Homo sapiens: one gene and its partner. The protein of the gene in region 1 interacts with the protein of each later gene in a biochemical or structural test. Each region holds a gene or a part of one and is shown in the gene's direction. Other genes may lie near its edges. The genes, in order: GNRH1 and MEP1A.

What was found.
Region 2: of the proteins of GNRH1 (region 1) and MEP1A, one has a biochemical effect on the other in vitro, tested with the Homo sapiens proteins (one study listed by BioGRID).

What each region holds. Positions count from the first base shown.
Region 1 is NC_000008.11:25,418,740-25,421,553, reverse strand, and holds the end of GNRH1 (progonadoliberin-1 isoform 2 preproprotein), read left to right. Parts: intron 1-2,093; coding exon 2,094-2,135; 3' UTR 2,136-2,296; downstream 2,297-2,814. UniProt on the Homo sapiens protein: Stimulates the secretion of gonadotropins; it stimulates the secretion of both luteinizing and follicle-stimulating hormones.
Region 2 is NC_000006.12:46,831,116-46,838,425, forward strand, and holds part of MEP1A (meprin A subunit alpha precursor), read left to right. Parts: intron 1-1,958; coding exon 1,959-2,423; intron 2,424-3,462; coding exon 3,463-3,636; intron 3,637-4,133; coding exon 4,134-4,434; intron 4,435-7,310.

The sequences.
Region 1 (2,814 bases):
ACATGATCACAGCATAGAGCTCTAGAGGTGGATAAGCCTTTGGGGATCACTTAGGACAGCTACCTCCCAGATACTGTGGGGCTTACATTCCTGACTCCTCTGTTACCTCCTGTGGTAGGACCGTGTTTCATGACAATCCCAGTTGGTGGTTAGACAGCACTAGGGGCTGAAACGTTTTTTTGTTTGTTTGTTTTTTCTGAAGTTGAATTGAAATCTCTCTGTAACTTTTATCTCTTAATCCTGGTTCTAGCTTTTGGGATAACTAACAAAACAAATTTCTTCCCACTGCTGCATTTCATTTCTTCAAGTAAAATCACCAAACCCCCTAGACTACTCCACTCCAGGCTACTCCACAGCCCTCCACCTGATCCTGCAACTGTGCTTTATCTTACATGGTTTTCCAGAACCTTGGGGAATAGAGACATGAGAAACACTGCTGTAGATGGGTTTTTTTTTCTCTTCTTTGGAATGAAAAATGCCAAACTACTAAATTTATAATTTAGAGAGTGATGGACTTGATTTCCAGTTTCCTGATAGGACAATAATCACCTCCAAATTCCGCCCCCCAAAATGGAAATACACTAATCATATTAGGTTTTTGATGAAAAAGTATAAAGAGAATTGAATGTATAAATTGAATCTTTTAAAAAAATTATTTGTTGAGACAGGATCTTGCTCTGTTCCCCGGGCTAGAGTGCAATGGTGCAATCAATGCTCACCACAGCCTCAACCTCCCAGGCTCAAGCAATTCTGGAGACTAGATTAGCCTCTCTAGTAGCTGGGACTATAAGCACTTGCCACCACACCCAGCTGATTTTATTTTTTAATTTTTTGTAGAGACAGGGTCTATGTTGCCCAGGCTGGTCTCAAACTCCCAGCCTCAAGATCCTCCCAAAGTGCTGGGATTAAAGGTGCAAGCCACTGTGCCTGACTTAAGTTGAATCTTGGATTCAATGTTGATATTCTCTGATCTCTATTGTCCACTTATCTGCAGCAATCAGAAGGCATTACAGTTAATGATCAGTTATGCCTAGGAGCTGGGAAAGCCCAAATAAATCATATATAAAAATAAGCTGTAATTTTAATTGTCTACAGTGACTTCAACTTAATATACCCACAGAACAAAGAAAAAAGTGGGCAGACGTCGTTATTTCCTTTTTCGTTTTTTTTGGAGTGCAGTGGCGCAATCTCGGCTCAATGCAACCTCCATCTCCTGGGTTCAAGCGATTCTCCTGACTCAGCCTCCCGAGTAGCTGAGATTACAGGCATGAGCCACCACACTGGACTAATTTTTGTATTTTTAGTAGAGATGGGGTTTCACCATGTTGGCCAGGATGGTCTCAATCCCTTAACCTTGTGATCCGCCCACCTCGGCCTCCCAAAGTGCTGGGATTACAGGCATGAGCCACCACGCCCAGCCTATTTCCTTTCTTTTTCTAATCTTGCTTACTGCATTACAAAAATGGCAAGCAGTGAAATTTGTCAAACATGACATTATGAAGAAATTGAAGCAAAGGCTGGTTTAATAGCAAAGTAATTGACCAGACTTTTTTTTCACTTCCTTCCTCACAACTCATCCTTAAACTATTAATGTAGATTTTATGTATATTAAGTGCTTAAAAAGACCCAATCGGCCAGGCACAGTGGCTCATGCCTGTAATCCTAGCATTTTGGGAAGCCGAGGTAAGTGGATCACTTGAGGCCAGGAGTTCAAGACCAGCCTGGCCAACATGGTGACACCCTGTCTCTACTAAAACTATAAAAATTAGCCAGATGCGGTGATGCATGCCTGCAATCCCAACTACTAGAGAGGCTGAGGCACGAGAATCATTTGAACCTGGAAGGTGGAGGTTGCCATGAGCTGAGATCATACTACTGCACTCCAGCCTGGGTGACAGAGTGAGGTTCTGTCTCAAAAAAAAAAAAAACCAGAAAAACAAACCCAATTTATCATGTCTCCCTAGCACTAACTAGAGCACAAAATCAAACAGACCAATTCCTTCCAGACTGATATTTTAGAAATTAAAATGTCAAAATGTAATGAAATTCAGCTGGTAAAGTCAGTCTTGATATATTTGTTATATATTTTTCAGGAAAGTCTGATTGAAGAGGAAACTGGGCAGAAGAAGATTTAAATCCATTGGGCCAGAAGGAATGACCATTACTAACATGACTTAAGTATAATTCTGACATTGAAAATTTATAACCCATTAAATACCTGTAAATGGTATGAATTTCAGAAATCCTTACACCAAGTTGCACATATTCCATAATAAAGTGCTGTGTTGTGAATGAAGTGGCATACCTGTTAAATCTTTCTCCAACTCAGAACTCCGGGGGAAGGATCACTGTAAACCCACCAAAGGGAGCCCTCCATGTGTGTATACAGGTGGCAGATGGGAGGGCAGGTAAGATAAAGTGTCTGTTGTTGACAAAAGGGATCTCAGGCTCTCCAGCACCCATACCCTGCATCTACCCACAAGCAGAACAGCCACATACTGGTCCAGCCAGAAAAAGCTGATTCAGCTCCAGTTTCTCTGGGATTATAACTTTATCTTCGACCATACTCTTCAGAAGTTGAGGTGGGGCCACGGCCAAGGCTTTCTTCCACTTGGAAAGAAGTTCCCTCCCTTGATCGTCTCCAAACCCTTTGAAAGTTTACTGGAACCCAAATGAGGCCTGGGGGTAAGGAGAGGGGGCCTCCAAGGACTCCTAGTCCAGCGCTCCTTCTGGTCCCACGCAATCTATCCAAGTGGTGCACACTGAGGGTTGGGACTGAGACCTAAAAAATAATAGAGTGTTCATCTGCTTGAT
Region 2 (7,310 bases), on another chromosome or scaffold:
ATGAAAGGTTTTTTTAAGTAGTCTGTTCTGATACTGGTTTGTCAATGAAACTTTTCAAAAAGGTTAGTTGAATATCACTTAGTGTTGTTTATGTGATATTCAACTTAAGACAGTCGCAACCAATTTGAATAGCTTTTAAGTTTTGCAAAATGTATATTTTGACCAAAACACTTACACACAAAATGTCTCCATATGCATATCTGTATATAATATATGTTACATACATAATGCTTATATACAAACTTACATGAAAAATGTTGGCATACAACTATGTGTATGTACACACACATGCACACACACACGTTTTTACTGAGGCCAGGACTTCCTTATAGAAGACAATTCTGAACTAACAGGGATTAAATTTGTCTCAAACAATCGTAGTAGCATTATTGCCTGACTGATTTAGGGCAGCCCTGTGGAAGCATGTAAACGAAACCATCTTAATAATTTCATAGATGAATTTCTGCCTATGTGGTATAGCCTCTTGGGTCTCCTTCCCAGTGCCAGATTCCCCCATCTCAACCTCATTTTGACATCCTATATTAAGAAAAAACAAAGCAGGTACTAATCAGCAAGAACAGAATCCTATTCTCTTGACAGAATTCCCATGATCTATAACCTGCTGGATAAATAGTTCAAATCCTATATCTCTGTTCCTATTCCTAGACTTTCTGGCACCTATTACCCTTCAAGTCCATGTGTCTTCCACTAGGCTGCCATGCTCTCCGCAGGAGAGGGCAGCTGCCTAGATTTGTATGTTACAGAGGTGGTCGTGTGCCTTCTCTACCTCTCTCCTGTGTTCCCATGTAACCTACCTCTCTCCTGTGTTCCCATGTAACCTAACCACACAGGCCATAATCAGCTCCACCCTAAGAAACAGAACATTGTTAGACCTGTCCCTTGAAGTTGTACTTAGAGAGAATGGCCTGAAAACACAAGGGAGATTAAAGGTCTTTTCCTTTTCAGGGAAAGTATAGTTCTATAAGTAGATATCTGGTTAAAAGACACAGAAGAAGGAAAAAAGACACTCATCTGTAGGAACTCAGTTTAGCCAACATGACTTCCACTTGGAAGCATTTTTCCTCTCCTCTTCAAGCCCAACTCTAGGGAATACCCTGTGCAAAAATATCAGTGTAGGCACATCTCTTTGCGGAATTGAGTTGCTTTGCTTTCGCAGTTTCCTCTCTCCAGTACCCCCAAGCTCCTGTCTGGCTTCTTATACTGTTCAACCCAGGATCCTATGTTCTAGAACGGCCTTCTCACCATCTTTCCTCAGCTCTTAATTCGAAAGTCCCACTTCTAGTTCATGCTCAGAGAAAAAGCAAGTAGACCTAATCTTTATTAGAACGTGCATTTCCAGACAATAGTACTCTATTTGGCTTACTTTGCTCCCCTACATGGTGGACTTTCAGATAATATAAGGAAGAGAAAAAAGTCTAGATGTTGGAGAGGGAGTCAGTTTTAGGTAGGGAAGATCCAGTCAGTCCTACAGGTTATTATCTGCTCTTCAGCATTCCTTATAGCTCTCTGGCAACAAGTGACAGGTCGGACCATATGGAGTTACTATTTTTTTTACTTTTGGCTTAGAAAATGGCTATTTTATATGATTCAGCCTAACACTTGGGTTTTCTTTGCTAACCTTAGGGGTTACAGTTGAACCAGCCAACTCAGGAGGAAATCCAGAACCTGGATTCTTATAGTGGAAAACAAATTCACGGTTAAGATTTGAATGTGAATTTTAAAATAAATCATAGTATTTTAAAAAACAATTTTTCCTTATTAGGTATGTAACTTTGGAAAAGTTACTTAACCAGTTTATAACAGTACCTATTTTATAGGGCTGTTGTGAGGATTTAATGAGATAATTTATGGAAAGCACATGGCACTGTGCCAAACTCATAATAAGTACTCATTAAGTGTTGGTCACAGTTCTCACCAGCCTTGTTCTCTGTCCTCAGGAGATGATGACCACAATTGGAAAATTGCCCATGTGGTGCTCAAAGAGGAACAGAAGTTTCGCTACCTTTTCCAGGGCACAAAAGGCGACCCTCAGAACTCAACTGGGGGAATTTACCTAGATGACATCACTCTGACAGAAACCCCCTGCCCCACAGGGGTCTGGACAGTCCGGAATTTCTCCCAAGTCCTTGAGAACACCAGCAAAGGGGACAAGCTTCAGAGCCCTCGATTCTACAATTCGGAGGGATATGGTTTTGGGGTAACTTTATACCCAAATAGCAGAGAAAGCTCTGGTTACTTGAGACTTGCTTTTCATGTGTGCAGTGGGGAGAACGATGCTATCCTGGAGTGGCCGGTAGAAAACAGACAGGTGATAATTACCATCCTTGACCAGGAGCCTGATGTCCGGAACAGGATGTCCTCAAGCATGGTGTTCACTACCTCGAAGTCGCACACATCTCCAGGTGGGTGGTGTCAGCGCAAATAAGAACTGCCCCTTGAACCAGAGAGGCCCACAGATGTGATTCTGTGGTGCAAGAAAGAGTAACGTTCTCCTCACATTGTCTGTTTGGGAATACCAATAACATAGTCTTGTTGGAGTTTCAAGTCAAGATTTTCAATGCCATCACATCCTCCTTCCCTTTCCTAAATTCACTCATCAAACATCTATTGAGGGCTTACCATGTGCCAAAGTCGGTGCTAGGTACTTAGAATACAAGTGAATCAGGTGATCCCTGCCTCACTGAGCTCGTTGTGATTGAGGAAATAGATACTGCTAATCATTTATCAAATACTTGGAACTTGCTGGGCTCTGTGCAGAGCTAATGTACTTACTCCTAAAATAGTACTCAATGTTACTATGTTCATGAAGTAAACTTACATCAGTAAAGAAATGGGCAAACTATTTTTTTTTTTTTTTTGAGATGGAGTCTCCCTCTGTCGCCCAGGCTGCAATGTAATGGCGCATTCTCGGCTCACTGCAACCTCCACCTCCCAGGTTCAAACAATTCTTCTGTCTCAGACTCCCGAGTAGAGATGGGGTTTCACCGTGTTGCCCAGGCTGGTCTTGAACTCCTGAGCTCAGGCAATCCACCCGCTTTGGCCTCCCAAAGTGCTAGGATTACAGGCGTGAGCCACCACGCCTGGCACTAATTTTTTTTTTTTTCAAAAGAGAAGACTTAAGCCTTAGAAGAAAGAAGCCGTAGCTGTCCCTCTCTTTTCATTAAGAAAGTCGCTCAGTAGCAGACAACTGATCACTCAGAGCTGTGATTCTCTGCCTCTCCCATCTTTCAATTCTGAATTGCAATTCTCCTGGAAATAGTAAATAGCCTAATTTTTTTCCAACACTTTTTTTATTTTTATATTTATTTATTTATTTATTTATTTATTTATTTATTTATTTATTTATTTCTGATTCACAAAGCCCTGTATCCTCATTAAAGACAAACTGGAAAGTGAAGTCTAAAGAGGTAATGTGATTTTATGTTACCTACAACTTTGCAGCGATAAATGACACTGTCATCTGGGACAGGCCGTCCAGGGTGGGAACCTATCATACGGACTGTAATTGTTTTAGAAGCATCGACTTGGGCTGGAGTGGTTTCATTTCCCACCAAATGCTGAAAAGGAGGAGTTTCCTGAAAAATGATGACCTCATCATATTTGTGGACTTTGAAGGTACTTTTGTTGGTCTTCCTGAGTAAATAATCCTATGCTCTTGGCACTCTACTGATTTTATCCTGATTTTTAAAGCACACACGGAGGGTGGGGATGAGGTTAAAACAATGTGTTGTAGGAGAATCACATTTTATTCAATTGGTCAAGGACTCACATCTTTATTTTAATTGTCCTTGAAAGAAACTGAAATTTTAGTGTCATCTTTTTGATAATTTTATCAGAGGTAACCGTTCACTGATTTCAATTTAGTTTCCATCAGCCTATCCATGCTAATTTTATGCTTCATTTTGCAAATTCAATAAATAAAAATGTGACTGGATTACTTTAAAATAAAAGTAGCTAATACTGTGGGAATCAGCTGGATTCAAAGCCACTTTTCCATGTCACTAGGGGTGATGGGAGATAGAAGCAGGCTGGGGAACTTTCACCAGAAGTGGGAGTTAATTGTAGTCAGTTACTAATCCTGGATCTTCCTCATGACTCTCTATTTCCTGAAGATATCACCCACCTCAGCCAGACTGAAGTTCCCACTAAAGGCAAAAGACTGAGCCCCCAAGGCCTCATTCTCCAAGGCCAGGAGCAGCAGGTCTCCGAAGAAGGTTCGGGAAAGGCCATGTTAGAGGAAGCCCTACCTGTCAGCCTGAGCCAGGGGCAGCCCAGCCGACAGAAGCGGTCGGTGGAGAACACAGGCCCCCTGGAGGACCATAACTGGCCACAGTACTTCAGAGACCCATGTGACCCAAACCCTTGCCAAAATGACGGCATCTGTGTGAACGTGAAGGGGATGGCGAGCTGCAGGTAGGCTCTGTGGCTGGGGAGACAGGCAGGCCAGCAGACCTGGGCCGTGTGCATGCTTGCTCCTGGTAAAGGCTGCTGTTTGCAGAGTAGGGCGAAGACTACCTCAGATGGTCAACTGAATGCGGTTTTCTTTGACTCTACAAAGGTGTGCCCTGGATTCATGGGCTTATGCTGCCAGGACAGAGGCTTCCCAGGTCACCTTGTCTCTTGACTTTCACCCCTTTTCCCCTCTTCTGGGGTATTGTCAACAGCATCTTGGATGTTGTTGGAATTTCTAACTCTAACAACACCCAAGATGGCTTCTAGCCTAGGGACTTTCTACTCCATGAGGGTGGGTCTCAAGACCAAGCTTAAATCTTTGCTGACTACAGATGTTATTAGTTCCTAATTATTATTAGTTCTATAGTCTGTCATTTACACTGTACTATTATTACAGTTATATTTTCAATAATAGTAGTAAGAACACCTGATATTTCTGACCCCTTGTTATGCATCATGTAGTCTCCTGAGCATCTTACACGCATGATCTAAATTCATTCTCACTGCCACCTGTGACATAAGGGCTCTCCTTATCCCCGTTTAGTGTGTCAAGAAGTTGAAGCTTAGAAAGATTAAGTAATTTATCTAAAATGTACCCAGATGGAAAATGCTGAAGCTGGGACTTGCATCTAGGTCTGTCTGGCAGCACAGTTTGCTATATTTTATAGTTCTTTTTATAATGTTTGCTTGCATAAAACCCTAAAAACTGTTTCACAAAAGGAGGTATGTGATGACAGAAGCAACAGTTCCATTTGAACAGTAGCAGATGTAGAAGCTATTCTGCCTGCCTCAAAAATTTACATTTCTTCTGAGTTCTTTTTAGTCTCCTTTTTTTTCTCTTTTTGTAGCTTTTATTTTGAAATAATTTTAGACTTACAGATACAATGCAAAAATACTACAGAGGTTTTCTCTATACCATTCACCCAGCTTTCCCTAATGTTAGCATATTACACAAACCATAGTACAATTAGCATAGCCAAGAAATGAACATTGGTACAATGCTAGTAAATAAATTACAGGCCTTATTCAGCTCTTCCCAGTTTTCCCACTAATGTTCTTTTTCTATTTCAGGATCCAATTCTGGATCTCACATTACATTTAGCTTTTATGTCTCCTGTCTCCTAATCCCCTCCAATTTGGGACAATTCCTCAGTTCTTTCTTGTCCTTCATTACCTTGACACTTTCGAAGATTACTGGTCAGGGATTTTTTTTTTTTTTTTGGTTCATCTTGTTCTTACATGATTAGATTGAAGTTTCACATTTGTGGCAAGATTAGTAAAGATGTGCTATGCCTTCTCGCTGCAGCGTGTGAACAGGTACATGATGCCTATACATGTCATTACTGGTGATGTCAACCTTCATTATCTGGCCAACAGCATGTCCACCAGGCCTCTCCACTGAAGAGTTACCATTTCTCCCTCTGTAATTAATACGTATATTGGGAGAGATATTCCAAGACCATGGAGACATTCTGCTTTTCCTCAAATCCTCACACACTAATTTCAGCATCTGTTGACACATCCTGCTGCAATACTCACCACTGAGATCTTCTAATGTTGATTTCCTATATCCTTCACATTCATTAATTATAATCTCCTGTAAAGAAGAATGGCACCTTCACCCCGTTAATTTGTTTATGTGATTGTTTATTCACATCACGAAGGAATCATAAACATTAATTTTATTCAGTGGGCTCTGTTGCAATAATTTCATGATTTATTTTGTTGCTTCTATTGTCCCAGCTTTGGCCTTTGGGAGCTCTTCCAGGTTGGCTCCTGTGCTCTTTCAACATCAGATTTTATGAACACAATGTTACTTTCTGGCACCATAACATGCTCTAGGCTCATCTTTAATTTTTCCTGCCCCACCCATAGAATCAATCACTCTTCCAAGAAGCCCTCTGGTTCCTTTTACTGGGGAAGGCCCATCTGTTTCTGGGCTCCAAAGCCATAGGTCTGCATATCTTTGCCTGACAGGCCCTTAGATGCCAGATTCCATTATGTGTCCCCAACAGGCTTCATCCTTCCCAGGCTAAGGGAGGCCAGGGCTGCCACTTGTATGTCAGCCTCCACTCAGCCAAACTATTGCTCTCCTAGAAACCTGCAGCTGAGAGTTGGCAGAATAAGTTTTTCTAAGGTAACACTAGGGGATATCACTAAGTTGTGTTTGGAGAGGACTGGGTCAGAAAAAAATGAAATAAACTTGCTATTACTCACTGATTTCTAAGAAGTCAATTCTCAGGATAGAGATGAGGCCTTGGAAGGTAAAATCATTCAGGATTAGTAAAAGAAAATGCTGACTTCTTATTTTTTTTTTTTTTGAGACAGTTTTTGCTCTTGTCACCCAGGCTGGAGTGCAATGGCACGATTTCAGCTCACTGCAACTTCCACCCCCCGGGTTCAAGCAATTCTACTGCCTCAGCCTCCCGAGTAGCTGGGATTACAGGTGCCCACCACCATGTCTGGCTATTTTTTTTTTTTTTTTGGTATTTTTAGTAGAGATGAGACCATCTTGGCCAGGCTGATCTCAAACTCCTGACCTCAGGTGATCCACCCGGCCTCCCAAAGTGCTGGTATTACAGGCGTATGCCACCATGCCCAACCAGAAAATGCTGACTTCTAATTGTTTCACTCTGCTCTGTAGAATTCTGCTGAGTAGACCTTCTAGTAGGAATGTTTGAAACAAAGGCTGGAATTGTTACAAAGGTATGGATGAGACACTACAAGTTATATGCCTTGGTTATGAGATTAGTTGATCTTTATACCAGATAACATTAAGAAACAAAACTAAGGGCTGGCCATTATGTGCTTACTCTGTGTTAAATACCTTGATAAGT